Linked DNA regions of Homo sapiens. The protein of the gene in region 2 interacts with the protein of the main gene of each other region in a pairwise test. Each region holds a gene or a part of one and is shown on either strand. Other genes may lie near its edges. The genes, in order: CD33 and TNMD.

Evidence for each region.
Region 1: the proteins of TNMD (region 2) and CD33 interact in binary tests that used the Homo sapiens proteins (3 or more experiments, as listed by UniProt).

The regions. Positions count from the first base shown.
Region 1 is NC_000019.10:51,234,997-51,240,732, forward strand, and holds the end of CD33 (myeloid cell surface antigen CD33 isoform 1 precursor), read left to right. Parts: intron 1-160; coding exon 161-257; intron 258-521; coding exon of another isoform or gene 522-598; coding exon 599-680; intron 681-826; coding exon of another isoform or gene 827-835; exon of another isoform or gene 836-970; intron 971-4,521; coding exon 4,522-4,692; 3' UTR 4,693-5,020; downstream 5,021-5,736. UniProt on the Homo sapiens protein: Sialic-acid-binding immunoglobulin-like lectin (Siglec) that plays a role in mediating cell-cell interactions and in maintaining immune cells in a resting state.
Region 2 is NC_000023.11:100,594,776-100,600,524, reverse strand, and holds the end of TNMD (tenomodulin), read right to left. Parts: intron 3,022-5,749; coding exon 2,868-3,021; intron 1,510-2,867; coding exon 1,343-1,509; intron 1,018-1,342; coding exon 808-1,017; 3' UTR 640-807; downstream 1-639. UniProt on the Homo sapiens protein: May be an angiogenesis inhibitor.

The DNA.
Region 1 (5,736 bases), on a different chromosome or scaffold from region 2:
TCATGGTCGTGGTCAATATTGATGTCTATGATGGGTGGGAAGATCTAGGAGCTAAACCCCATTTTGGAGGTGAAGTCACCCCTCTCTACATGCTGGAGAGGAGGATACACATACCTGTTTATCTAGATTAGAATTCACCCCAAATCTTTTTTGTCTGCAGGGAAACAAGAGACCAGAGCAGGAGTGGTTCATGGGGCCATTGGAGGAGCTGGTGTTACAGCCCTGCTCGCTCTTTGTCTCTGCCTCATCTTCTTCATGTGAGCATTTTCTCTGGGTCAGGCATGGGCCAGAGGTGAAGAGGATGGACCTGGTGTAGAAGGGTCCTGGAGGGGCTGTGAGGGCTGGAGAAAGGGCAGGGGGTGTGATGATGTACAGAATCCAGCCTGTGGCCACTGGGATAGGCGTGGGTCTATTCCAGGGCCCTGATCTCAGATGTCCAAGGAGTGGGAGGTAGAGGGAGACCTTGTGACTAAGTCTTGTTTGAGGGCTCCTGGATTAATCCCACCCTTTACCTGCCAAAGTCCCTCATTCCAGGCTCATAACAATGGCCCCACAGCCTGAGAAAACCAGGCTCAAAGACCCTGGTGTCTCCCATCAGAGTGAAGACCCACAGGAGGAAAGCAGCCAGGACAGCAGTGGGCAGGAATGACACCCACCCTACCACAGGGTCAGCCTCCCCGGTGAGTGATGGGGCATCCTGGCATCCAGTCTGTCCTGCAGACACCTCCTCCCAATGTGGCCCACCGTCATGCCCCATTCAGCATTTCCAGAACTGAGCTTATTGTCTTTCCTCCTGTTTAACAGTGTAGGTTTTAATATTTTTCAGGTACGTTGAGGCCAACAGATCAGGAGATGATGGCCATTGAAAAGATAGTTTCTTGGCCGGGCACAGTGTTTCACACCTGCAATCCCAGCACCTTTGGAGGCCAAGGCGGGCGGATCACGAGGTCAGGAGATTGAGACTATCCTGGCTAACATGGTGAAACCCCGTCTCTACTAAAAATACAAAAAATTAGCCAGATGTGGTGGCTGGCGCCTGTAGTCCCAGCTACTTGGGAGGCTGAGGCAGGAGAATGGTATGAACCCGGGAGGCAGAGCTTGTAGTGAGCCGACATAGCACCACTGCACTCCAGCCTGGGTGACAGAGAGAGACTCTGTCCCAAAAAGAAAAAAAAAATAGTTTCTTATTCACCGTTCCCGAGAGGGCACACCACACCATGCAAGGCCATATGGAGAAGCACCAGGGTCAGTCAGGAAGCAGAGGGAGCAAGGAGAAAATGGGACAAGAGCCTTCACTGTGGCTTTCATGGAAAAGAATGGGCAAGACAGGGTAAGCAAGCTAGGCAGGTTTAGGATTGGCTACTTAGAACAATTTCAGCAGACTCTGGGGTATAGGAGTTGTCTCTAGTTGTCTGGTACATGGCCCTGGGTTTATTAAGGAGGATTGTGGTCTGGAGTGTAAGAGCTCAATAAAGGATCCAGCTGGTAGTGTGGGCTTTAGATTGACTGGTTTGCACATGAAAGGTGCACTTGTATGCAAGTCCTTTATTAGCTCTAGAAATCTACTATCCTTGGGAAAGGCAGTCTCTCAAGGGTCAGTAATGCCCCAGATGTCAAAACATCAGAAACACTTGGTTGACACACCCCTAAACATACTTCTCCTGATGGGTTCTCCATCTCGCTGATGGCACTCTTGTCCCCATTACCCAACCAGAGACATGGCCCCCTCCTGTCCCAGTCCTCCATCTCTTCCTGTGCCAGTATGCTACGATGCATGTCTGAGCTTCCTCTGAACACGGCTTAACACAACCACTCCTGAGCCGAGAGCCCCTCTTACTCCTTATTCTGCTGCAGCCTCACCTCCCATTTCTCCTCTCCAGAACATTAGCATCACCTCCCTAAAAGGTCATTGTCCCATCATTCCCAAGTTTGAAATGCACTGCTTCTCTACACTCCTGAAAGATTGGCATTCCAACAACTTGGTCTGGCATTTGGAGCAGGAAAACCAGAGTCCCCTTCAGTGCTATGCTCCCCCAACATTAGCCACTCAATCACCTCAAGCAGGGCAAGCTTTCTCATCTCAGAATCATTGCTGGGCTGTCCCCTCCTCCTCATATGCCTAATAGCTACCTGCCCAACTCCAGTGCATCCTTCAAGCTCTGATTTTTTTTTTAATTTATTTAACTCTGACTAAAGTGAACACCACAGTAAAGTTTTTGAACACAGGGTCAACCAGCACCCATTCATTCTGAAATATCTATATAATCCCATTTGCCAATTGCTCTAGGTCCTTGTGCCATTCTGTATTTTTATAAACACACAGTTTACAAATATAAAATATTCCTCCTATCGGGGGCTTAACATTTATTGGGGAAAGGGATGAAAATAATGAACAAATAAGCAGTGCAAATATACATGAAATAGGCATGAAATAAGTGCTATGGCAGGAAATGAAATGGGAGAACGGATTGGACAGTCCTGGGGGCCAAAGAATGGCCTTTGGGCAAACACCTGCAGAAAGAAAGTGAGTACAGTATGAGCAGTAGAGAATCATCAAGGAAGCAGCAAGTACCATGGCTCTGAGGCCGGAACACATCTGATGTTTTAGAGAAACAAAGTAGGACAGTGTGGATAAGGCAGAGTTACGTGTTGGGGGTGGAGTGTGGACTGAACAATGGTAGGTAGGAAATGAGGTTGAAGAGACATAGGAGCTGCAAATATTGCAGGATCCTAAGTCCATCATAGTTATTGATGCGTTTAGAGCAGAAGAGTGACATGAACTGACACTCATTTTAGTGGGAGTCACTCTGGCTGCTCTGTGAGAAACTCTAGTATGTAGTATAGAAGAGAAGATACCAGAATAGAAGATACACAGATAATCAAGCCAAGAGATGACTGACTCAGACTTAGTCCCAAGTAAGAATAATGAATCTGATGTGGAGAAATTGGGTTCCGGATACATCTTGAAGGTGGAGTCAACAGTATTTGCAAGTGGAGTGATGGAGTGCATGCAAGGCATGAGCAAAGATAGCTCACGGGCTCTGCTCGATAAGTGTCTCAGATGTCATAGGTGGGTCCACAGATATCATAGATGTCATGGATGTCCAAGAAGACCCCATAGATGTCATAGATGTCTATAGATGCCAATGATGATGTTCATGTGGTTAACTCAGAATTCAAACTTAAAAAATCAAATTGCCAATGATTAAAATTGCCATCCTTGAAGGAGAAGTCTATTTTCAAGTGTATATCAAACATTATTTTGGTTACCGTAAGTTTGAGGTGCCTCTGAGACATCCATGTGGAGATGACAAGTAGCAGGCAAGTGTCTGGAGCTCAGAAGAGGGCTCCACGTGGGAGACACAGAGGTTGGGAGCTTCCCTATCAACATCCAATAATCGATGAATCTACAAAGAAGAGAAGGGGTCCACAGACACAGCCCTGGAACCCTCCAGCATTTAATGTTAGGGAGATGAGGTGTAAATGGTGAGAAAGCTGAGAATGAATAGGAGCCAATGACCAGGAAATTGCAGGCTGTAGTGTTGGTGGCCAAGGGAAGATGGGGCTTCATGGAGGAGAGGTTGGTCATTTGTTTCAAATGCTGGTAAGTCTGGTAAGATGGAATCTGAGAAATGGCTATTTGAATGTAGCTAAGTGGTATGACAGCAAAGCAGATCTGATTTTTCTGCTGGAGGAAGATCTCTTGACTAGAGAGAGTTCAAGAGAGAATGGGAGGAGAAGAGGCAGAAACTGTGAGTTGAAGGACTCTTTTGAGAAACACTGCCCCAAATCTAGAACCAAGAAATGGGCCTGCACCAGCAAATGGTTGTACCCTGTAGACTTGCCATTTCTCCAGCATCTGCTCCTGTGTCTCTTATGATACCATGTTCCCTGTTTGTGTAGGGCTTTGCACCACTTGAACTAACTGCATTCCCATAGCTTCCCCTACCACACCATGAGCTCCACAAGGAAAAGCCTGGGTTTTATTAGACCTCCATCATTCTACTCTCTCCTGTTCATCTGCACACTGTCACAATTTGCAATTACCAGTCTGTTTCTGTCTTCATCCCCTGCAGTACTGGAAATCACAGGGCCCCTGCTCTGCTCTGCTCCCTCCTGAGGATCCAGTGCCCAGCACATAGGAGGTCCCAGAGACCTGGGACCGAGTTCAGGGTCAACAGATGTGTGACTTTGGAAATTACCTAAGCTCTCTGAGACCTAGTTTCCTGGTCTGTAAAATGGATTAAAATAATAGATGCCAAAGATGATGTCAGTGTAGCTGCCCAGAATTTTTCCACATTAGTCTCTGTGAGTATTCAAGAGAATTGCGAATCAATCAATACGTGCTACATGTGTTAGATAATGAATAAGTAGAGCCTTAATTAATTAACATTTGATGAAAGAATGAAAGAGTGAATAAATGTTCTGTCAGAGTCAAATTTACTTCATTGACCCTCTTTGCCTTCTCCTGGTCCCCCTCCTCACTGCCCTGCTCTAACCCCCTTCTTTCCTCTCCATAAGAAACACCAGAAGAAGTCCAAGTTACATGGCCCCACTGAAACCTCAAGCTGTTCAGGTGCCGCCCCTACTGTGGAGATGGATGAGGAGCTGCATTATGCTTCCCTCAACTTTCATGGGATGAATCCTTCCAAGGACACCTCCACCGAATACTCAGAGGTCAGGACCCAGTGAGGAACCCACAAGAGCATCAGGCTCAGCTAGAAGATCCACATCCTCTACAGGTCGGGGACCAAAGGCTGATTCTTGGAGATTTAACACCCCACAGGCAATGGGTTTATAGACATTATGTGAGTTTCCTGCTATATTAACATCATCTTAGACTTTGCAAGCAGAGAGTCGTGGAATCAAATCTGTGCTCTTTCATTTGCTAAGTGTATGATGTCACACAAGCTCCTTAACCTTCCATGTCTCCATTTTCTTCTCTGTGAAGTAGGTATAAGAAGTCCTATCTCATAGGGATGCTGTGAGCATTAAATAAAGGTACACATGGAAAACACCAGTCCTGGTGCAGTGAGAGTTCGGTGCATACTGGTTCCTTCCCCCTTGAACAGAAGTCATTAGTGATATTTGATCTCTGGAACTATATCAGCAACATGTCCATCTCACTTGCTGCTCAAAACCCCACCATATATGTCTTCCCTGACTTACCCTCCAACATCATCTCTCTCCACTCCTGAATCTTCTCTTTTCATCTCACCTGTCCCCTACTCGGATTTCTGCTTTCTTTATGTCCTGCTACAGGGAAAATCACATATTAGCATTTGGGGAATTTTCTAAAACTCAGAGCTGACCATAGTGAAAATAGTTCCCTAGATCCCCAACCCACAGGAATAATTTGAAGCTTCTCAATGTGACATTCTAAGTCAGAGATGGTCAACCAGTATTAGCAAAGGGCCAGATAGTAAACATGTTCAGTTTTGCAAGCAATGTGGTCTCTATTGCAACTATTTAATTCCGCCATTGTAGCAACAAAGCAGCCACAGACAATCTGAAAATGAATTATATGGCCATGTTCCGACAAAATGCTATTTATCAGAACAGGCAGCCCACGGGCTGTGGTGTGCTGACCTCTATTCTATGTTGCTCTGAATCTCGCTCAGTCTACTCTTCCATTGCCACATCCTACACTCTATGGACCCCATTCTAATGCATTCCTCCCTGTCTGTTTGAATCCACATCCCTCTTCCAAGAAGGGCTGTCACCATGTCATCATCG
Region 2 (5,749 bases):
TGGCCTGCTATGACTCACTGCCTGTCCAGCAGCTTAATTGATACTTAAGGAAGTTCACAATATATCTTTCATATAATTAAACACTGGGGCTATGCACAAAAGGATATGTTTTTAATGCATCAGTTATGGAGACATTTTATCATCAGCTCCTTATTTCCACTGTCTTAATACAGCAGAGTAAAATATGATATTTAGGTATCATTATGCTTTGCCCTTTTCTACTTCCAAACCTGTTGTGTTGGATCCTCTCTGGAAAGGGAGTCTTATGACCTACAGTCAAACAAGGTAGGTCAGATAATTTCCTTATGGCCAGCTTTTACACAGAAAAGCAGAGGAAAAATCAGAGTGATATTTTTAGGTTTAAGGCTGGCTTTGGAAAAAAGGGGTTTTGATTTATATGACACGCCTTGAGGAAGAGGGATTCTAGCTTTTATGGCTAGCCTCGGGGGAGAATGGGACTGAGAGACTGGCAGGTAGGAGAAGGTCAGAGAAAAACTTTTGCTTCTGAGGCTTTCATTTTGGGGCATTGTTTTCTGAGCCTCAGCATAGTCATCTATGTTTGACGGGTCTGCTCCATTTCAGTTGCTGTGAATATTCTCAGCAAACACTTACCCAGTGTGTTCAGCAGCAATCAGGCTGTTGGTGATAATGTAGAAGTTTATTAGAACATGAAGAGAGGAATTACCTACAAGTAATTCTGGAGAGCTGGCTACCAGGGGCCAGATGCCTCATAGGCAGAAATTCATTGAATAGCATGCATTTATTATATGTTGCCAGCAGTTTAAGCATTTGAGCTCAAACCTCCTATTAGACCCTCCCCAGCATGCGGGCCACCCACCAGTTACAAGGCATGATGACACGACAGATGACTCGTCCTCCTTGGTAGCAGTATGGATATGGGTAGTAGCCTAGTAAAGGTTCACAGACGCGGCGGCAATAGCGGTTGCCTCGACGGCAGTAAATACAACAATAACCTCTCTCATCCAGCATGGGATCAAATTCTATTCCATTTTCAGTCTGAAAGAAGAAGAAGCCAGTGTTGGGGGTGGGAGAGGAAGGTTCACTAGCAAGAGTTCTCACCAAGCAGGGGAGAACTAGAAGACTGTATGAGTTGGGGGCTTGTGAGAAATTAAGCTCCTTAGCCTGATCATGGAGATATATCTACAGAGATCGAGATTGATTTTGAATGAGCCTCCTGGAGATTCCAAGTTTCTTAAACATTTTTTTTTTTTTGTTAAAGCCATGATCGTTCTCCTTCCAATGATTGTGATCTGAGGGGTAGTAAGTTTTGTGAGGGCTCTTTTTTCCTCCTCTATCAAGAGTTTACATAAACATAACTCACATAGTCATTTATTGGAAGTTCTTCCTCACTTGCTTGTCTGGCGTGACGGGTCTTCTCTACTTTCACTTGAGGGACCACCCACTGTTCATTTTGTTCAATCCCTTTTTTTTCGTTGGCAGGAAAGTGAAGATCTTCTCCCTCCTCCTCAAAGTCTTGTAACTCAGAAACTAAGATAATAAATGCAAAGTTGTGATGCAACTGCTTTGCAAATGTTCCTGAAAGAAGTGCTTGGGAGAATAGCAGCTGGGGATAGAGATTTTCATTGTGTCTTCTAACTGGCATCATTTAGGCATGGACCACTTTTCCAAGCTCCTTCAGCTGATATTTTAGAGTAGTTTCCAAAACAAGCCTGATCATTTCTACATACACAAACTTCTTTGCTTCTTTGGCATCAAACATTTACTGCTTTGACTTAATAGCACACTAAATTAAAAACTGAGGACAAGGGACTTCTGTATCTCCTACAATGATGATTTTACCCATGTAGATGCTCAATAAATATTTCTTGGTTGCCTGAATTGATTTGACATCCTCTGTCCTCCCACTTCCCTTATGTTTCTTGTCTTAAATTTTTTTTAAACTTTCTGTTTAGAAATAATCTTAGATTTATGGAAGAGTTGCAGAAATAGTACAGAGTTCACATATTCTTCACCCGGTTTCCCCTAATGTTACCTCACATAACCATGGTACAATGATCAAAAATCAGAAGTTAGAATTGGTACAATGTTATTAACTAAACTACAGACTTTATTCAGATTTCATTAGTATTTCTACTAATGTTTTTTTCTGTTCCAGCATCCAGTCCAGGATACCACACTGCATTTAGTCACCTTTTTAATATCTCTAAAGAGTACCCACAGATGCTTACATTGGTGAGAATAACCTCTCTTGGGTAATAGAGTAATCTATGCTGTGCAGAATGAGGGAGGCCAAATTCCATGTTAGCTAAACAGACTAAGACATCCAGGGGCCTTTACCTTCTCTATGGGCTGACTGGAAGTTGAGGGCTGGACTCTTCTACTCTGGACATCAAGCCCTCAACTATTTTTATAGTAATTCCTAAAACAGCAACAAAGAAATTTGTATTGCAGTGATTGTCCTATCTTCTAAGGAAAATGCCACCATTTGACATAGGGAATCCTTCTTGATAGCAGAGCATTGTTTTTGCCCTTCTCTCCTCTATTCTTGGGTTGGACCCACAGTGGTTTGAGCAATAGTCTGGCATACCGACTGCAATGAATATAGATGTGCAAAGAGAGACAGATTAGTTTTTTGCTATCACTAGTCACATTAGGGTGGTGTTACCTTTGCTGGGATATTTAAAAGCCTGTCAACATTAATTTATCTGATTTATAACTTGGCTGTGAAAAATTCCCTCCTCACTGGCAGTCAGCATATATAGACTCATCCAAGAAGATATAAACCGATCATTTGTTTTCCTAGAAATGTAGCCTCTAAATGCTGGGAACATTAACCTGTTACTGTCTTAGAAAATAGGAGGAGGATGAGGATAAGAATGTCATACCTGATATTAGAGTGGGATTGATCCAATACATGGTCACGTTATCACAAATCTCCAGAATTTTGGAATTTTTAAGAAAATCTCGGTTTTCAATAGGCTTTTCTGCTGGGACCCAAATCACTGACTGTTCAAAGAAAGTTGTGGTAATTTCTTCATTCTGAAAGAAGAAAGTAGCTTAGGGTAGGGATTGGCAGAGAAATTAGTAGAACAAGTGAGACATTATGGGATGCTGGAAAGCAATATATTTTGAGTGTAACAATTTTAATCCTAGGGCTGCTGGTGAACTAGCTCTGTGCCTTGCATTCAGTGGGTGCCCTTGGGGGAGTTAACAACTGATCCTTCCTCCTTCCTGGGTCTAACAGCAAGACTGCTTACTAAAGTAGGAGCCTTCTCTGTTACCATTTCACTCAAAGTCAGAAAGGGGCTTCGTTATTTTCAGGGTGCCCTGGGTCTGTGTATGTTTTAACTTGAGCTTCTGGAACCCTAAGTGATTTACATTTGTTTTCTTTTTTATAAATACATTTTATTAGCCTGCCTTATTTTAGGTTTGCATCTTGGGTGGCAAGCAGGATTTGACCCGAAGCTGACAAAACTCCTATAATCCAAACTGGTGAGATCAATTCAATAACAATGTAATCTAATATTTTGGTTTTACAAGATTTGCCTGTTGATGGTAGCTAGTTATAGTACAAAAGATTTCCTTTTATGTTTTAAAGGCAAGTCTCCAGTTTATGACTTCACTGGCCTTCCTACTATTGCATTCCTTTCATTGTAAATGCTTAGAGTTTATCTCACAGAGTGTTTTTCCTTTAAGCAGCTTTTTTTATATTGTGAAGGATGCCACTTTCTCTTCAGTTTCTAGTATTGAGGTAATTGTGTTGTATACCTAGTTCTTACTAATTTCTCCCGGAATCATTTACAATTCTAAAGTCTTAGCACCTTTGTCCTTGAGTCTGTAACGACCTTGAGATGCATTGAAAGGAATTGTATAAAATGAGGTTGGTATGCTGACTAGCTTTGTTAGCAAAATCAGGGCTATTTATATACCTGCTCTGCATGTTTAAAATACACATGCCATGGATACAGTGTGGAGGGAATTACAGAAGAAGGTTTTTGTCATTCAGGACCACAAATTTGTCTCATTAAAAAAAAATCTGTGGCGTGAATATAAAAAACAAGATTTACTTGAAGGTACAGTGTTCTTACTATCATGAAATGAATTTGCGTTATTTAAAATATTTGGTGAAATTAACTGAAGACTAAATTAGGGCCAAAATGAGACATTATGAGCCTTTGCCTTTATTTTTTGTTTATTTATTTATTTTTTGACACTGAGTCCCGCTCTGTCACCCAGGCTGGAGTGCAGTGGCGCAAACTCGGCTTACTGAAACCTCCACCTCCCGGGTTCAAGTGATCCTCCCACCTCATCCTCTTCAGTAGCTGGGATTACAGGCACACGCCACCATGCCCGGCTAATTTTGTTTTGTTTTGTTTTGTTTTAGTAGAGATGGGTTTTCACCATGTTGGCCAGAGTGGTCTCGAACTCCTGACCTCCAGTGATCCCCCTCTTCGGCCTCCCAAAGGGCTGGGATTATAGGCGTGAGCCACCGTGCCCCGCCTCCTTTGCCTTAATCTTTCAAAAAAATAAATCCTATTATATCACTTCAGGTTCTCATTGCTGAGTGGCCTACTCAAATGCTTACATTATTTTCTGTATGTAATCAGCATATGTTATTGTGTATAGTAGCTTTTTAATCCTATTGATTTTCCTTTTATCTTACCTTTGCCTTCTATAGTCATTCCTAATATCCTGAACGTCGATCTATTCCTCAGATGCATCTAACTTATGCTTACTTTAAAAAAAGTCTCCAAACTTTGTCACTACCGTAGACCTTGGGAGCAGAGCATCATCTTTGGGAGAACGTTCTTTTTTTTCTTGCAAATTCTAGTAACAAGGGTCTGTAACTCCTCTGGCCCCGAGGAGACCAGTAGCATGAAAGAGTAAAGTGGGAGCCAATGACAGCTCTAAGACTTGGGTAAGGGAAAGAAAAATAGTCCTCCCCACCCACCGCCCCCAAATAAAGAAAAAGGTAAAGAAAAAGGTAAAGGAAAAGATAAATGGGTTGGTGAGAATCAAGATGGAGGGAGCTGGGTGGGAGAAAAGTGAAAAAGAACAGGGAGAGAGAGAAGAAAGAAAGAAAGAAAGAAAGAGGTTTTTATAGTTTATAGAAAGATCACTCTGCCATGGCTGGGCGCGGTGGCTGATGCCTGTAATCCCAGCACTTTGAGAGGCCTAGGCGGGCGGATCATGAGGTCAGGAGATTGAGACCATCCTGGCTATGGTGAAACCCCGTCTCTACTAAAAATACAAAGAAGAAGAAGAAGAAGAAGAAAGATCATTCTGCCATTGCCATAATTCCACTTTAGATTTGGCAACTAAGCACTAAACCAAACCAAACCAATGTTTGTTTTTTCTTGCTATAGTGGGGATATGCTGTCACAATATGACCTTAACTGAGGTCCCCCTTCTCCTCCCACTAATAAAACCATACTGTAATTATAGACAAAATATCAGGGAACAATAAAGAGCCTCAAGGGCCTTACAGATCGTTGTATTTTAGGCAATAACATCCATCTCCCATTAGGTTTTAAAGGGCCATTCAGTGATTTCACCAGCACCCTAGGTTGCCTTACTTTGGTCTAGCAGGGTGTTTTCAGAGAATTTGTATCCCATTGCAGTGTTCACCTTCTTTGCTTTTGCCTTTCCTACTGAGGTTAAATGTGAATTATTCCATTAGCAGCCCAGCATAAAATGGTAAGGTGAATGAACCACAATCTTTAAAATAGGTGAATACTGAAGTGTGACAAAAGTGGCAAGAACCCCA